Linked DNA regions of Homo sapiens: region 1 is linked to region 2. The links come from fine-mapping of genetic effects on gene expression. A gene starts in region 2. The other region holds a variant in brackets. All regions are shown on one strand. Distances are from middle to middle. Region 1 holds the start of DLEU1 (deleted in lymphocytic leukemia 1). Region 2 holds the start of KCNRG (potassium channel regulator).

What was found.
Region 1: its variant is fine-mapped to the expression of KCNRG in whole blood (TOPMed, PIP above 0.99).

The regions. Positions count from the first base shown.
Region 1 is chr13:50,078,821-50,087,401 of GRCh38, forward strand. The region is part of intron 1 of DLEU2 (deleted in lymphocytic leukemia 2); the gene reads right to left. DLEU1 (deleted in lymphocytic leukemia 1) reads left to right here and starts at 3,349. Exons shown (of 7, transcript NR_109974.1): 1 at 3,349-3,737; 2 at 4,322-4,374. RefSeq lists enhancers at 1,801-1,860, 3,478-4,273 and silencers at 2,493-2,787, 2,651-2,870, 3,271-3,320. The variant AT/A (reference allele first, on the strand shown) is at 4,120.
Region 2 is chr13:50,011,745-50,020,325 of GRCh38, forward strand. KCNRG (potassium channel regulator) reads left to right here and starts at 3,700. Exons shown (of 2, transcript NM_173605.2): 1 at 3,700-4,327; 2 at 8,470-8,581. The coding sequence starts at 3,750. It overlaps TRIM13 (tripartite motif containing 13), which reads left to right. Exons shown (of 2, transcript NM_213590.3): 2 at 191-6,723. The coding sequence starts at 197. The coding sequence ends at 1,420. All of the region lies in intron 10 of DLEU2 (deleted in lymphocytic leukemia 2), which reads right to left.

The sequences.
Region 1 (8,581 bases), 67 kb after region 2:
AATCCCATAAACCAAAGTGCTAAAAATGTATGGTTATACTTAACCAGCCTGGTGGAATTTAAAGCTTGCCCCCAACTCTTCCCAAAACTCACGTAATTTGAATGAGAATACAAAACTCAAAACAAAAACCATCAGTAAAAAGCAAAACCCAGGAGTTCTGGTACTTTAGGTATAATTACGTTTAAAATAGAAATGAGATCTCCTAAAATTTCATTAAATCAAATTTTATAGAGAAGATAATTAGCACCTTCTATGAAATTTTCATAAGATGACCCAAAATAAATAGCTTTGAACAAAGGTAATGAAAAGGGATCTGTTATCACAATTCTTGTTATGAGGGCAGTACAAAATAGTATGAATTATAAACTCAGCTATTCCACTTACTAATGTAAATTATATTTACAGCCCTACAGAGATTTATAAAAGCCATAAGATTTTTTATTTGAATATTTTTTAACAATGCGTATTTGACTTAATGCGAACATACACACTATAAGCTTCAAAATTTAACTACTATTCATAAAAGAATATAAACGTCTATTAAATTAAAACAATTGTTTCTCAAAGCATCTACAGCTGTTTATCAGTTAGTTTGCCGCTGTTCTTTGAAAACGACACCTGCCTTTTATCAAGATGCAATTAAATGGAATGACAAGCTCGGTAATAAATGGAAATATACTGAGGCTGTCTCAGGCAACATCGAACAAAAATCAACTGAAAATCAACCAGATAAAAAACAGCACACCCACACTGTTGTATACAATATATTTCTTCATAATGAATTTATCAAAGGAACTAAATAATAGATACGCACCTGTGCTTACCTGTTGTCTAAATTAAGAAACATAAATGTTTTGTAAATTAAAGTTTTAGTTCACTGCAGTTACTGAATTAGCAAAATGTATATTTTCACTAGATGCGAAAAGTTTTTTAAATAAGATGTTCAATTTTTATGGAAAATGTTAAAAAGATCATTCGTGAACCTTAAGAAAATTAGTTTCTTTGCATCAAAATAAAAGAAACAACTGTCCGGTAATCTGCATCCAACAAATATATGTAGTTTAAGGTGAAAAATTCCTATCAAAGGAAAAAAACTAAATTTTTCACTCAGTTTTTAACCAATAAAGAACAGTGACAAATATATAAAAGTCTTGTTAATTTCAACCAGCAGAAACATAATTTTGCGAAAACAGCCTCTTCAGTTTTACTTTTAATATACATTTGAGAACCACACGAAAATCCTTTCTGAGAGGAAAAAAAACTATTAAAAACCAACTTTTTTTCTAAACTCTCGTCCTAACGTTTCGTAGCTATTTCCGTGGTTCTCTGGCTAAAAGTATATTTTTTCGTAAAGTCGAGAATTATAGTTTAGCGTTCAACATTCAAACCCCCCAGGCCCGCTTCCTTCCAGCCAATCAGGGGGTAACAAGTCCAGAGTTTAGGGAGCTCCGTTAGACACAATTTGAAAAACATCACATTGCACTCTTCTATTCTCCTCCGGGAAACATTCTAAGCGAGGGCGGGTCCCCCAGTCTTCATAGAATATAAGAAATAAATCAATCGTTACATCAATTCCACGGGGAAAAACTCTGTAGGCAGGCAGTCCTAAAGAAGCGTGTCACCGCGGTTCCCAGGAAGCGTTATTCCTCTTTGCGAACAACTGAACAGAATAGCTGCTGCAGAAAGCATCTCCGGAATATTTGCAACCCAGAGCCGTGCGCCCCACACGCAATACACCGGCAAAGGGTTAATCTAGTGGTGCCTCCAGCGCGGAAAAGAACTCAAGATCTAATACATCCTTAACGCGGGATTTTTACAAAGGCCATAGAAGTATTACCTAAAGTTAATGCCGTCACTGGCTCACATCACTCAAGAGCTGTGGAGTAAGAATTGATAGAAACCACCAGCTAAGGGGGAAAAAAAAAATCACCGAAGGGAAAGACAAATAACAACTCTCGTCCCTCCTCCTCAGCGTCAAGAAAAGGTGGGGATCGCAAAATTACCGTTAAGTTGTCCGGGTAAAGACTTTTGGGGGAGGAAAACATTAATAGTTTCACAGATTGCTTTTTTCCTTGCGACATGTTTCAAACACCGGAGAAGAAAAAAGTCTTCTAAGAAAGTGCGACTCGGAGGAAATAGCCACGAGAAGGAAATCGTTAGCTCGAAGCCCCATCTTTCATCTCACCCGTGAACACTCCTCCCCTTTGAGAAAGGACAACGCTGCGAGAGCAAATGACAAAAATCCCCAGAAAGAAGCTAAAGTCCAGCATCTTTCCTAAGAGCCCGCTACAACCTCAAAAGCCTGCCCCTGCCCCATCTTGGAAGCGCGAGCCGCGGCCAGTCCTACCTACCTAGAGACCTCACCGGGACCCAGCGCGCCGGGGGAGGGCAGCCAGGGCTTGGGAAACTCTTTCCTGGGGCACCTCACGCTTCAGCGTCAAAAGACAATATAGATAGATGGGTGCCGGGCGGTGGCGGGGGGGACTGTTGCCACGACCCACCGGAGGGACCCATGACTCCGGGTCCTGAATTTTCTGTCGACCTTAAGTTTCTTGTCACGAGATGACGGCCATCACCGGGTCGAGAAAACGGCGAGAAAAGGCGGCCCGGTTCGGAAATGGGGGAGGGGCGCGCGTCCAGTCCTCCTGTCAAGGAGCGGCCGCCTGCAGAGACCCCGCAGTGCGCCGTCCCCGGCTCCGGTCCCGGGCGGGGGGTCTTGCTGACAGATCCGCTGGGCGGCGGCTGCTCCGCCGCAGCCGGTCCGCGTCCCGCTCAAACTGCAGCTCCCCTCCCCCCACAGCCCCGTCTCTCCGCGCTCCCGCCACATTCCGCCCGCCGCCGCCCACTCGCAGACGCCCAAGTTGCCCCTAACCCTACTTCCTCGGATTTTTCGCGATTAAGTGAGAGTAGACCCCGCGCCCACTCCCTGCACCCACCACTGCCTGCGGGTCCCACCACTGCCACCTCCCGAGTCCCGCTCTGCTACTTCTTCAGGCTCTTACCGACTGCGCCAGCCTTGGCGAAGCTCCGCCGACTGCCCTTTGCTCCAAGTAATTTTTGGCGATTTTTAAAGTAATTTTTCCGGCGGAGTCATAGTGGCGCTATACTCTCGGACAGGTTATCCTGTCTCTCCCGCTAGATTGATGAGATCAGGCATCACTCGAAAATGGCGCCGAAAGCGCTGAGGCTCCTCATTCAAATTCGTTAGAGCCAACCCCGCCGCCCCAGGGAATGCCGGGAACGCGGGCTGCCTCCACAGCTGTCAATACCGCCTCTTAACCCCCCTTCTCTTGCTTTCCCGACATTTTTACGCATGCGCAAACTCCAACCCTCCCCCCTCCTCCCGCCAGGCACATGCGCAGAATCATCGTGGTGCACGGCTCTCCCTTTGCTTCTTCGGTTGCAGTCCTCTTGCTTCTTGCGCGTGCGTGTAGCGCTTTTGCAAAGCCGCGGAGGTGAAGTGAACTTAGAGGTTGTGGGGCCGAGGGGTCGTCTTATAGCTACCAGCCCACAGGCATTTAGTCTACGTTGGAGGTAAACAAATACGGGTCCTGCTTAGGAGAAAAGAAAAACGTCTTACAGCCAGTGTCTAAACTCCAAACAACGGAATGTATCAATGAGACCTTGTATATGGATACACGTGCATTTAAAACCGCCCTGCCGGCTTGTAGAGCTTTTGCCGTTCTCCAGCGCTTTACAGGGGTTATCGCACTTAAGCCTCGGAACAACTTTACCAGGTAGGAACTATTACTGTTCTCGTTTTGAAGACCAGGAAACCTAGGCTCAGAGACGTTAAGTAATTTGCCCAAGACAGCACAGGTGGCACAGAAGTGGATGAATCCACATCTGTCAGATTCAGCAGCCCTGGAGTTCTCTACCACGCTGTACGATTCAACCTGAGCCCACACAGGAGGCGTGGTCTCCTTCTTCAACGGTGTGTGTGTGTGTGCGCGCGCGCCTGCCTAGAGTTAATGATTAAGTTTGCTGAAGCCCTTCTTCCCGGTCCTAAGCTGCCTGTTGCGAAGGCGCTTTCATTGAATTCAGTTTCTCTTACCGTCTTAACTTGTTCATAAACTTTTTGAGATAGGAATGGGCAGTTTTTCTGTGTCACTTAGGATG[AT/A]TTTTTTTTTTAATGGCGTGATAAGTGAACTGAATCCAGCAAAGACGAGTTTCTGTTGTGCAACACGTTGGTATACTGACAGCTACCACGTATTGACTGTGTACTGTGTGCTGGGCACTGTGCTAAATAAATGATTTACGAATTAATCGTGTTTATTGCTCACAACAGCCTTATGAAGTAGGTATTATCTTCACTTTACAGATGAGGACACCTGAGGTTCAGATTAAGAAATCTGCCCCAAAGTCTTAGAACTGGTAAGTAGAAGCACCATATCTAGGCAAACCTGTCTACCTTCAAAAAAAATGGGCACTCTGATAGGACAATTAACGATAATAAAGTTGTAATTTTTTTTTTTTTTTGAGACGGAGCCTCGCTCTGTCGCCAGGCTGGAGTGCAGTGGCGCGATCTCGGCTCACTGCAGCCTCCGCCTCCCGGGTTCAAGCAATTCTCCTGCCTCAGCCTCCCGAGTAGCTGGGACTACAGGCAAGTGCCACCACGCCCAGCTAATTTTTGTACTTTTAATAGAGACGGGGTTTCACCATGTTGGCCAGAAGGGTCTCGATCTCTTGACCTCGCGATCCGCCCGCCTCGGCCTCCCAAAGTGTTGGGATTACAGGCGTGAGCCACCGCGTGGAGCCCTATAAAGTTGTAAATATTTTAAAACCTTCATTGTGAATGTTAAATAAGAGAGTAGATATGAAAGTGCCTGAAGTACTAATAAGGAAGTGGGAGAAGGGTAGCATGGTTTGCATTATTTAAGTGTCTTGGAAAAGAAATGGATTTTAGCAATTTGAGATCAGCAAGAAGTAACGTGGCAGAGTAGTATAAATACACTACTTAATCTCTGGTACTTTTTTGCACTACTTAAGTGGGTCGACTCTGGAACCGAGCTGCCTGGGTGAATCCCAGCTCCACTACTTACTAGCTGTGCCTTGTTGGGTAAATTATCTGTTGGACCTTTTGTAAAACAAGTACTATTAATACCTCATTGGACTGTTGTAAGGATGTAAATGAGCTAACATATTAAAGGAATTTCAACAGTGCTTGGCATATTAGTAAATGTTTGTTATTGTCAGTCAGTCATTGATCTTTTAAACTGGCTTCTTTAATGGTTGTTCAAAAATCAAACTACAGTTAGTGCCTTTAGGGGTCAGCATTTTTTTTCTTTTTTTTTCTGAGAGGGAGCCTCACTCTGTTGCCCAGGCTGGTTGGATCACTGCAACCTCTGCCTCCCGGGTTCAAGCAGTTCTCCTGCCTCAGCCTCCCATGTAGCTGGGATTACAGGTGCGCGCCACCACGCCCGGCTAATTTTTGTATTTTTAGTAGAGACGGGGTTTCACCATGTTGGTCAGGCTGGTCTCCAACTCCTGACCTCGTGATCTGTCTGCCTTTGCCTCCCAAAGTGCTGGGATTATAGGCGTGAGCCACCGCGCTGGGCGGGGTTAGCATTCTTATTCAAGAGCTCCTTAAAATGATAAATCAAACTGACAAATGATTTTTCCCAAATATGAATAATGATCCCTGTTAGGCAAATAAGGATGTTAATTTATTTTACCATCTCATAAGAATAATACCTGGAAATGGAATAGATTTATTGCTTTTTCTGATTGTTAAGGTTAAAAAACCGAGGCCCATCTAAAATATATATAAAGTAAAAATCATCCAAATTTCTAGCATTCAGGGATAACCACATATTGTTTGTACTTTAAAAATATAATGTACCTGTGGGGACAATCAGCTAGGGGGGGTCTGGATAAGTGGTATATTTGGGAGACATGTGTAAAATTGTACTAGAACTTACAAATAGGTAAGTAGCACAATCTGGTTTCCTCACTGTAGAATTTTTTATCTTAGTCCCCTTTTAGATATAATATGTCAAGAGAATTCTAAAGTGATGATGATAAATGATAACATTTATTGAAGACCTAATATGTGTCAGACACTGGGCTAAGCATGTACATGCATTTTTCCATCGAATCATCATGTAACTCATTAAGTGGGTGCAATTATCTCTATTTTGCAGAGACTAAAGTTTATGTGTAAGTCACTTTTAGAAGATTTAAGTCTAATTGTGTTTAAAGTCTTATTTAAGAAAAAATCTTTCATGAAAGCTTCTTGATTTGCTAAAATGGGAGAAAACAAAATCAACTAACATACAGTAGTTCCTATGCCTGAACAGAGAGCCCGATTGTAAAAAACGGTCTTTTGAAAACTAAGAATTTTATATTTGACCACAAGGGGGTGCAAATTCCTGAGTTAAATTTCAAAGGAAAAACGGGAAAAGTGCTTTTACTTTAGACCATCAAATTCGTGGGTTAAAACTAGTAAGAATTCCTGCCTGGAACTTTAATACCCTACAAAGTAATGTACTTTATAAGAAGAAAGAACTCAATTACTTAGGTGCTCAATTAGGGCAGAAGTGTCAGCTTGCTTTCTTCAATACAGTCAAGAGTTAATCATCCCTCCCCCACCCCTTTCCACTCACAGTTAGTTTGTGTCTCTGCATACCCCTCTTTACTTGTCAATAAGAGTAGAACTGAAGTCATAATTTAAAATCTGGGGTTTTGCTCTTGGAAACTGAAATGCAATCACCAGCTAATGGATGCTAAATATGGGTAGTGTGAAGAACAGAGGTCTTGTAATTTCTATGCTTTTTTTCCCTCCTGCTGAAGTTTATAATGAGTAAGCTACAACTGATGCAATGTTGGCTTCAACATATTAACTTATTTAGATAAAACTGTGAAAGCTATAGGTCTGTTCATCTTTCAAGAAAGAATGCAGGCCGGGCGCGGTGGCTCACGCCTGTAATCCCAGCACTTTGGGAGGCCGAGGCAGGCGGATCACGAGGTCAGGAGATCGAGACCATCCTGGCTAACATGGTGAAACCCCGTCTCTACTAAAAATACAAAAAAATTAGCTGAGCGTGGTGGCAGGCGCCTGTAGTCCCAGCTACTCGGGAGGCTGAGGCAGGAGAATGGCATGAACCTGGGAGGCGGAGCTTGCAGTGAGCCGAGATCGCGCCACTGCACTCCAGCCTGGGCCACTGAGCAAGACTCTGTCTCGAGAAAAAAAAAAGAAAGAAAGAATGCAGACAGTACCTTGAAAACAGTATATACTACTGAATGTATTAAAAACTTTGCTTAGCAGGGTTTTCAACTTCCTTTTATTTTCGTGTTGGTCTTGTTTCTCTGAGATGGGACTTAATTTAAAAAATACAACTTTTTTTGGAAATAATTTCAAATTTACAAAAAGTTACAATATTAAAAAGAGTTCAAAGAACATCTATATCATTTGCTTGCTCTTGTACATGGGTGAGTTTTCTTTTTCTCTCTCTCTCCATATACACAGTCTATAAAAAACACACAGAGGAAAAATACAAGAAAAAAACTTTCAACCCATATCAAGGTTTTATGATTATAGTTAAAAATATACATATCAAAAAGTCAAACTAAAATTTTGCAGTGTTGACACTGCCAAACTATTCTTTTAAGGAACATTGGTGTTCTATCAGCTAGTCCAGTGATTTTTGTTTTTTTAAGAGACAGGGTCTCTCTATATTGCCCAGGCTGGCTTCAAACTCCTGGACTCAAGTGATCGTCCATTCAGCCTTACAAGTAGCAGGGACTGTAGGCAAGTGCCACTGCACCCAGCTCAGTGATTCTTAAACTTTGAAAATGTGTTGAAAGTTATAGACCCTTTCTCTAGAATCATGCATGTATGTGAATAGTTTGCATATAGTTTCAGAGGTGGATGATGGTCCATGGAGTTCCTGAAGAAAAGTAAAGGAAAAATTATTCATACATATGGTAGGCAGAATAATGGCCTACCAAAGATGTCCAAAGATGTACATGTCCTAATCTCTCTGGGATTTGTGAATATGTTATGTTACACGGTGAGAGATAATTCAAGTTGCAGATAAAAATTAGGGTTGCTACTCAGATGATCTGAAAATAGATTATTCTGGATCACCTGAGGAGGCCTAATTACATGGTCCTTTAAGTGTGTAAAGGGGAAGCAGAAGAATCCGTGTCAATGATGAGATGTGAGAAAGCCATTGCTGACTCTGAAGGTGGAAGGAGGCCATGAGCCAAAGAATAGTTCATGAGCTCTAGAAGCTGAAAAAGGCAAGAAAACAGACTCTTTAGGAATGCAGCCATGCCGACATCTCTATTTTAGCCCGCTAAGACCCATTTTGAATTTCTGACCTCCAGAACTGTAAGATAATACATTTCTGTTGTTTTAAGCCACTAAGTTTATGGTAATTTGTTTAAGGTAATTTTAAGGCATTAGGAAACTAATAAAGGATGTGAACAGTCATTTTGTATGTGTGTTGATGTGTGGTTATGGTAGTAATTAAGTGTGTGTGTGTGTGTGTGTGTATACATTTTTTAATACCACCTAGGTATTTTTCTTTTTTTCTTTTTTTTTTTTTTTTGGAGTTGGGGTCTCTGTCTCCTAGGC
Region 2 (8,581 bases):
GAGCATGTTCTAGTCTCAGTGGATTAAATTTGCTTTGGTGTGCATTCCCTTACCAAATTTCTCACTACTTTGTTTGGCTGGTTATTTCAGTGAAAAATCATTTTAACGTGAAGGCAGATTTCTTCTAATTATTACATAGTCCTAGTGGTGACGGTTATTGGAGTAAAATAATTTTTTTTTTTTCTGGTAGGATGTGATGGAGCTGCTTGAAGAAGATCTCACATGCCCTATTTGTTGTAGTCTGTTTGATGATCCACGGGTTTTGCCTTGCTCCCACAACTTCTGCAAAAAATGCTTAGAAGGTATCTTAGAAGGGAGTGTGCGGAATTCCTTGTGGAGACCAGCTCCATTCAAGTGTCCTACATGCCGTAAGGAAACTTCAGCTACTGGAATTAATAGCCTGCAGGTTAATTACTCCCTGAAGGGTATTGTGGAAAAGTATAACAAGATCAAGATCTCTCCCAAAATGCCAGTATGCAAAGGACACTTGGGGCAGCCTCTCAACATTTTCTGCCTGACTGATATGCAGCTGATTTGTGGGATCTGTGCTACTCGTGGGGAGCACACCAAACATGTCTTCTGTTCTATTGAAGATGCCTATGCTCAGGAAAGGGATGCCTTTGAGTCCCTCTTCCAGAGCTTTGAGACCTGGCGTCGGGGAGATGCTCTTTCTCGCTTGGATACCTTGGAAACTAGTAAGAGGAAATCCCTACAGTTACTGACTAAAGATTCAGATAAAGTGAAGGAATTTTTTGAGAAGTTACAACACACACTGGATCAAAAGAAGAATGAAATTCTGTCTGACTTTGAGACCATGAAACTTGCTGTTATGCAAGCATATGACCCAGAGATCAACAAACTCAACACCATCTTGCAGGAGCAACGGATGGCCTTTAACATTGCTGAGGCTTTCAAAGATGTGTCAGAACCCATTGTATTTCTGCAACAGATGCAGGAGTTTAGAGAGAAAATCAAAGTAATCAAGGAAACTCCTTTACCTCCCTCTAATTTGCCTGCAAGCCCTTTAATGAAGAACTTTGATACCAGTCAGTGGGAAGACATAAAACTAGTCGATGTGGATAAACTTTCTTTGCCTCAAGACACTGGCACATTCATTAGCAAGATTCCCTGGAGCTTTTATAAGTTATTTTTGCTAATCCTTCTGCTTGGCCTTGTCATTGTCTTTGGTCCTACCATGTTCCTAGAATGGTCATTATTTGATGACCTGGCAACTTGGAAAGGCTGTCTTTCAAACTTCAGTTCCTATCTGACTAAAACAGCCGATTTCATAGAACAATCAGTTTTTTACTGGGAACAGGTGACAGATGGGTTTTTCATTTTCAATGAAAGATTCAAGAATTTTACTTTGGTGGTACTGAACAATGTGGCAGAATTTGTGTGCAAATATAAACTATTATAAAATCTGTTTCAAGTATGCAGTTTTCTTTTGTTAGAAATTGTTAGAGAATAGAGAGTGGTAATTCAGATTTGGTCAACGATTCTAGTCACATATTTTCCTCCAAAAGTATTCCTTCCAAAAATAATCTATACATGTTCAAATTAGGTAGCATAAAGATAAAAGTGAAATTTAGTAGTATAGGCCTGAACCTTTTTTTGTTTAAAAGAGTGCTTTTGAAATAAGCATCCACCCCAAATGTTGGTTGTATTTATGCTGTGATAAAAATAGGTGAGAGATCATATGATCTAATATTGTATTGATGGAAGTATAGGTAGTATAGTAGTGATTGTTCTTCAAGCATGCAGTAAAGATCACTTTTTTTTTTTTTTTTTTTTTTGAGATGGAGTCTTGCTCTGTCGCCCAGGCTGGAGTGCAGTGATGCAATCTTGGCTCACTGCAGCCTCTACCTCCCAGGTTCAAGTGATTATCCTGCCTTAGCCTCCTGAGTAGCTGGGATTACAGGCGCGTGCCACCACGCCCAGCTAATTTTTTGTATTTTTAGTTGAGACAGGGTTTCACTGTCCCTTAAGACCATCCTGTTAGCCAAGATGGTCTTGATCTCCTGACCTCGTGATCCGCCTGCCTCGGCCTCCCAAAGTGCTGGGATTACAGGTGTGAGCCACCGTGCCCAGCCAAAGACTGCTCTTAAAGCACCTTTTTGACAGTGAACATGGTCTAAAAAAGGGAAGATATTGTAGAAGATTTCACACACACACGCGTGTGTGGGAGACAACTAAAGGTATTGAAGGTACTAATTAATTAGATTTCCAAAATTTTCTACAGAGAGTTAATTATCACCAAAATGTGAATGGTACATACAAAACCTGGCATTTTCTTGTGATAAGTTTACATTTTTAGGAGAGTGGAGCTTTCAATCTGCCCTTTTCTCCTTTGTTTTTGTAGTTTTCACCAAAGATGATCAACTAGAAATGTTAAGTGGCTATGCAAGCAAAAGCATAGATAGGTTAAAAAAAAGGATCAGCTGGCTGGGCAGGGTGGCTCATGTCTATAATCTCAGCATTCTAGGACAGTGATGTGGGAGGATTATTTGAGGCTAGGAGTTCCAGTTCGAAACCAGCTTCGTAAACATAGCAAGACCCAGTCTCTACCAAAAAAAAAAAAAAAAAAAAAAAAAAAAAAAATATATATATATATATACACACACACACACACATATGTACACATACATATATATACATATATATGTATATATAGAACACATGGCAAGAGCAGGAAATGGGAAGACTACCTTTTTTCTGGCAGCTATGTGTTGTTTTGTTCGAAAGATGGCAAGTGTACAACCAAACCAATCCACTTGCTTACAGAAAGAATGTTTAGTGTAGTTAAGACTAATTTGACAACAGATAAAACAGTCTGTCAGCTATTACAAAGTAATCAGCTGAACACTAATGCTGTTCTGTCTGCTCACAAGAGATAAAGATACCCTCTCATGGAATAAACACCTTGCTTAGAATTCATATAACAAAGAAGTAACCTTATAACTGCTCTCTAGTCTGCCTTATTTGTGTCATAGAGTAAGATATTCCTTGAAAGCCCATTAAGTGGAATAGACTTTCTGAAAATAAGAGTTCTTTACCTCAGTCCTCCTCTAATTTGGTTGAGAGGAGGTAATGAAAATGGGGACAGGATAAAAGGTGGCAACTAAATTTAAAGCACAGAAGAAATGATTTCCTTCTAGCTATGAGAATAGTCAAATTGAGCTTGCCAGGCTGTCTCATTCCTAACATGTAATTCATGATTTAGCCACTAAATTTCTAAGGAGATCATAAGAAATTAAGAAAAACGTTTAAGTCTAGCCTCTGCGTGGTAGACAGGTATGGGGAGGGAGAATGCTTTTCCCCTCCCAGTAATAAAAAAAAAAAAAAAAAAAATATATATATATATATATATATATATATATATATATATATATATATATATATATATAGTTTTACTAGGTTTTCATGGATAAGTTTTTAAATGTAAGACAGGAAAGGGATCTATTTGATGTCTATCTTCAGATATATTGGCAGTTTTCCTTAAGCTATTTAGTTCCTCATCTGTTGCTTTTTCATTTTGTATACTGCAAGTTCCCAGGCAACTCGAATTTGCAAACACAGCCATGGATACACTATTTACCTTACAGTAGTTTCCTGGGAATCTAAGTCTGGTTTTTGTTATTCTTCCCTCCCCTCCACTGCATAATCATGTATAACTAGCAACATTTATGGTTATAGGTTGATTTCCTAAGTGTGGCTGATGGTAGCCTCTAGTTTGAAGTGAGGGAAGAATGAGTAGTCAGGAACTGGTCACTTTGAATGTGGGAGGGAAGATATTCACGACAAGGTTTTCTACGATAAAGCAGTTTCCTGCTTCTCGTTTGGCACGCATGTTAGATGGCAGAGACCAAGAATTCAAGATGGTTGGTGGCCAGATTTTTGTAGACAGAGATGGTGATTTGTTTAGTTTCATCTTAGATTTTTTGAGAACTCACCAGCTTTTATTACCCACTGAATTTTCAGACTATCTTAGGCTTCAGAGAGAGGCTCTTTTCTATGAACTTCGTTCTCTAGTTGATCTCTTAAACCCATACCTGCTACAGCCAAGACCTGCTCTTGTGGAGGTACATTTCCTAAGCCGGAACACTCAAGCTTTTTTCAGGGTGTTTGGCTCTTGCAGCAAAACAATTGAGATGCTAACAGGGAGGATTACAGTGTTTACAGAACAACCTTCAGCGCCGACCTGGAATGGTAACTTTTTCCCTCCTCAGATGACCTTACTTCCACTGCCTCCACAAAGACCTTCTTACCATGACCTGGTTTTCCAGTGTGGTTCTGACAGCACTACTGATAACCAAACTGGAGTCAGGTATTTTGTACTTTGCAGTATTTCTCTTGTATACCAGTTTGTGATGTTTTCTCTAAAAACTTGAAGTTCCTCAGGCCTGTAACTTCTGGAAAAGATGATTATTCAAAATAATGTTTTGGGGTAACCAGTGGAGTTGGGTAGAATGACCAAATAATTATTTTCCAAACTGGGATACTTTTTAGAGTGAAAGGGGCTATTATTAGGTGGGACAAAAGGAATAAATGAAGACTGCCCAGAAAAAACTGAGACTATGGACATTCAAATCATGGGAGAAAATAATTTTGTAGATTATGTTCCATTGCTAATGAATTTGACTTAGAAAAGAATTGCCTTATTTTTAAGAGATTGTTTCAGTGGTTCACATAAAGGCTCGCTCACTGGTTTCTCTTGAGTTCCTTACACACTATATAAGTTGTTCTTTCAGTTTTATGATTCAACTACTGTTTTTCCTTCAGCTGACTTTATTTTTAAACACCCTTAAAGACAGATATATCTCATGGCAAATTTGGTATCCTGTTACAGCCTTGGCTCTTAAACAACTCAAAATATTGGGATAGGCTGTCAGTATGTTAAGGATAGTTGCTCCTGAGTCAATTCTTCACTTACTCCCTCTGTTGTTCTTGGCTGGATCCTAACGCTGATTTCCACTCTGCTGTCACAAACATTTTTCCCCCCGTAAAATGTCTTAATGCTGTCCTACCATTATTTTACCAACTGTGAAAGCTGGCTTTAATTTTTAGGAGGAAAAGAAAAGCCTGCATGTGTTCTTTATTGGTATCATTTAAAATATACTTTTTTTTTTTTTTTTGGTAAAGGTAGGCGTATTTTAAGATATTTTCTTAACTTGAGCAGTAGCCAACAGGAAGGATACCAGTGTCTCTCTCTCTTAGCGACACACTCCTTGGTCTTGCTTACCAACTGGAGGACACTAGGTAGAATAACCGAGTATGACAATTCTTAATTGTTTACATTTTATAACTTCCTGTCCTTCAAAAGAGTTTGAAATGTCATTTTGGGAAAAGAGAGCCAGTCAAGCTAGTAGGCTGATTGTGAAGAAAATCTAATACCTTATCTTTATCTCAAACCTCTGTACAACTTTATTTTCATTGATGGGATACTTTAACAAAAATGAAATTTTTTTTGGTTTTTAAAATATGAGTGATTATGACCTCTTTGGGGATCATGCTTCAAAAAGTCAGAAACCTAGAGACAAAACTGTCATTGATTTTTAAGAAGAAACACACTAGGTCAAAAGAAGATGTCCTGGAAATACGAAGTACTCTTTAAAAACCATGCATTTGGAGAAAGTAATTGTTTCCTTGAAAAACATGATTAAAAACTAAAACTGGGATGTTCCTGTGTGTACACAGTGCCAAATGGTTTTCCCTTTTTATGTTGTGTTTTAGAAACAGCACGAAAGTTTTTTCCATTTTAAAGTGAGAAAACATTATATTTAGACTTCCATAATTCCAAAATCAGAAGCTATTTTTAAAATTAGCATTTTCTTGCATCACCAAATGGTATTCAATTGTTTGAAGCTCAAAATTTTTACCATTCCATAAATGTTTGTGAATTTTTAGACAGTGCCAATTTAAAAGTAGAGATAGCCAATCTGAATACGGTGAAATTATGGGGATCTCTGGTGATTGGGATGAAAACTCTGGCCTTAAAAGGTCCACTTTTAGTATATAATTGCCTAATTAGCAATCATTTTTATTTTTTGCTCACTCCCTGGTCTGAATCTATCTGTCTATTCAGATATTTTTTGGTAGGTTTGGAAAATGGAGAAGTGAGCCTAATTGGTGCCTAATTGTCTGGTGTATCATTCACTTTATTCAGTTTGTTCTATCAATATGATTTACCCCTCAAGGTTAACCTAGCAGGTTGCTCAGTTATTATCTCTCAAGGTCACAGTACTAGAAATACTTGGCTTGCATCTTTCAGATGCCATTCATGTTATCAAGCTCAAATTATAGTTGGTCACAGGATTCTAAAGTCTTTATTTGACTTCTCCTTTTTGAACTGGCTCAAATGGAAAAGTGTAGTTGCTTTTAAATGTTAAAAATAAGTTTAAACTTTATATTTCCCATTGGTTTCCCCTATTTTGTCCTTTCTTTGTGTGCTTGAAATATTTTATTTTTCAGTTTGTCCTCATAGGGAATCAAGTATTTTAGCTAGGTGATGTCTTGCAAGTACGTTCCACTTTGTTACAATCTACTATCTGTATATACTATTTGTATCTTAATTCTTTTATGAGATGTTCTGTAACATTTTTCTCACTTTGACAAATGTTTTTAGACTGTACAGTCAAGATCTGGCGCTTGGGGGTAAGTGGAATGATTTGCTAATATTGAGAATCTGTTGTATCAAACATAATAAACTTTTTTTGAGATGTGCTTTGTAGTTTGGTAATTCTTAGATTTTACTATTGGTTTCTTTGCTTAGAATGAGTTTCTAAATGTGAACTACAAAAACCACTCTACTTCAAGCATGATCATTAGAAGAAGGTTAGGGATGTCCCCAAGCATCATTTTATCCCTTAAAACTACAGATAGTTTAGGTTTCTGCCTGAACTAATCTAAGTTAGCTTTTTCTTCACATCTCATAAACTAATGGTGGGAGGACACAAAGAGCTTTATGAAAACATTTTTGATGGCAGATAAGGACGGAGTCATAAAGCTGTATCCATGCAGATGTGTTATGCTGACATTATTGTTATTATTGAGATGGAGTTTCACTCTTGTTGCCCAGGCTGGTATGCAATGGCGTGATCTCGGCTCACCACAACCTCCGCCTCTGGGGTTCAAGTGATTCTCCTGCCTCAGCCTCCCGAGTAGCTGGGATTACAGGTATGCACCACCACACCTAGCTAATTTTTGTATTTTTAGTAGAGACGGAGTTTCACCATGTTGGTCAGGCTGGTCTCAAACTCCCGAGCTCAGGTGATCCACCAGCCTCGGCTTCCCAAAATGCTGGGATTACAGGCATGAGGCACTACGCCCAGCCTATGCTGACATTATTAAAGCCAACAGATAGCTAATCTGAAAAGTTCATGTGCATTTTTTTCTTTTTTTCTTTTGTTTTTTTTTTTGAGACGGAGTCTCGCTCTGTCACCCAGGCTGGAGTGCAATGGCGCCATCTTGGCTCACTGCAAGCTCCGCCTCCTCATGTGCATTTTTCTTGAATTGGTTCTGTGTACTGCATTTGTTCTGTGGAGCACCTCAGTGAATAGAAGATTTTGCCCTTTCCACTCTCCAGAGGCTTTTGACCCCAAGTTGTGCTCTTTGACAATGGAGAGTTATTGCGTAAAAAGTGACAATAAAATCTTGACATTTCATATCTGCAAAATTTCACTTAAAAAAAGGTAAATTTCATAGGAGTAAGTCGCAAAGGAAAATCCATAATGTCAGTGCTAATAATTGATAAGATTAGATCTGGAGGGGAAATTGTAAGTGCACAGCATTCATTAAAATATTTGATTCAATCAACTAATTAATAGCAAATTCAAAACAAAATTGGAAATAGTTATATAAAAATTAATACAATTTGTTTGATCAAATGTTTTCTTTAGAAAGTGATCTCTCAAAAATTGATGAGTGTTGGTTTACTTCTAAATATGGAATTGAAATGACTTTCAGAATCACAGCAAGGTCTCGATTTTCAGCACCTGATTACTGATTTGGTAGCCTAGCACGGTGGCTCATGCATGTAATCCCAGCACTTTGGGAGGCCGAGATGGGTGGATCACTTGAGGTCAGGAGTTTGAGACCAGCCTGGCCAACATGGTGAAACTCAATCTTTACTAAAAATACAAAAATTAGCCGGGCATGGTGGTGTGCGCCTGTAATCCCACCTGCTTAGGAGGCTGAGGCAAGAGAATAGCCTAAACCTGGGAGGCAGAGGTTGCTGAGAGCCAAGATCACACCACTACACACCAGTCTGGGTGACAGAGTAAGACTCCATCTCAAAAGAAAAAAAAAAAAAATCACTCATTTGGATTTGTAAAGTAAATGAAATTTCAAAAAAAAAATCTGTCTTGAGAAGGTATGATGCCTTTGAGGTTGTAAGTCAAATTTATGTGTATAGTTTTGCTAGTTATTAAAGGGATGCTTTATAATTAAGCTTCTTTTTGTGTGTCCTAGGTATGTTTCTATAAAACCTGATAACCGAAAATTGGCCAACGGAACAAATGTCCTCGGCTTACTGATTGACACTTTATTAAAGGAAGGCTTTCATTTGGTCAGCACTAGAACA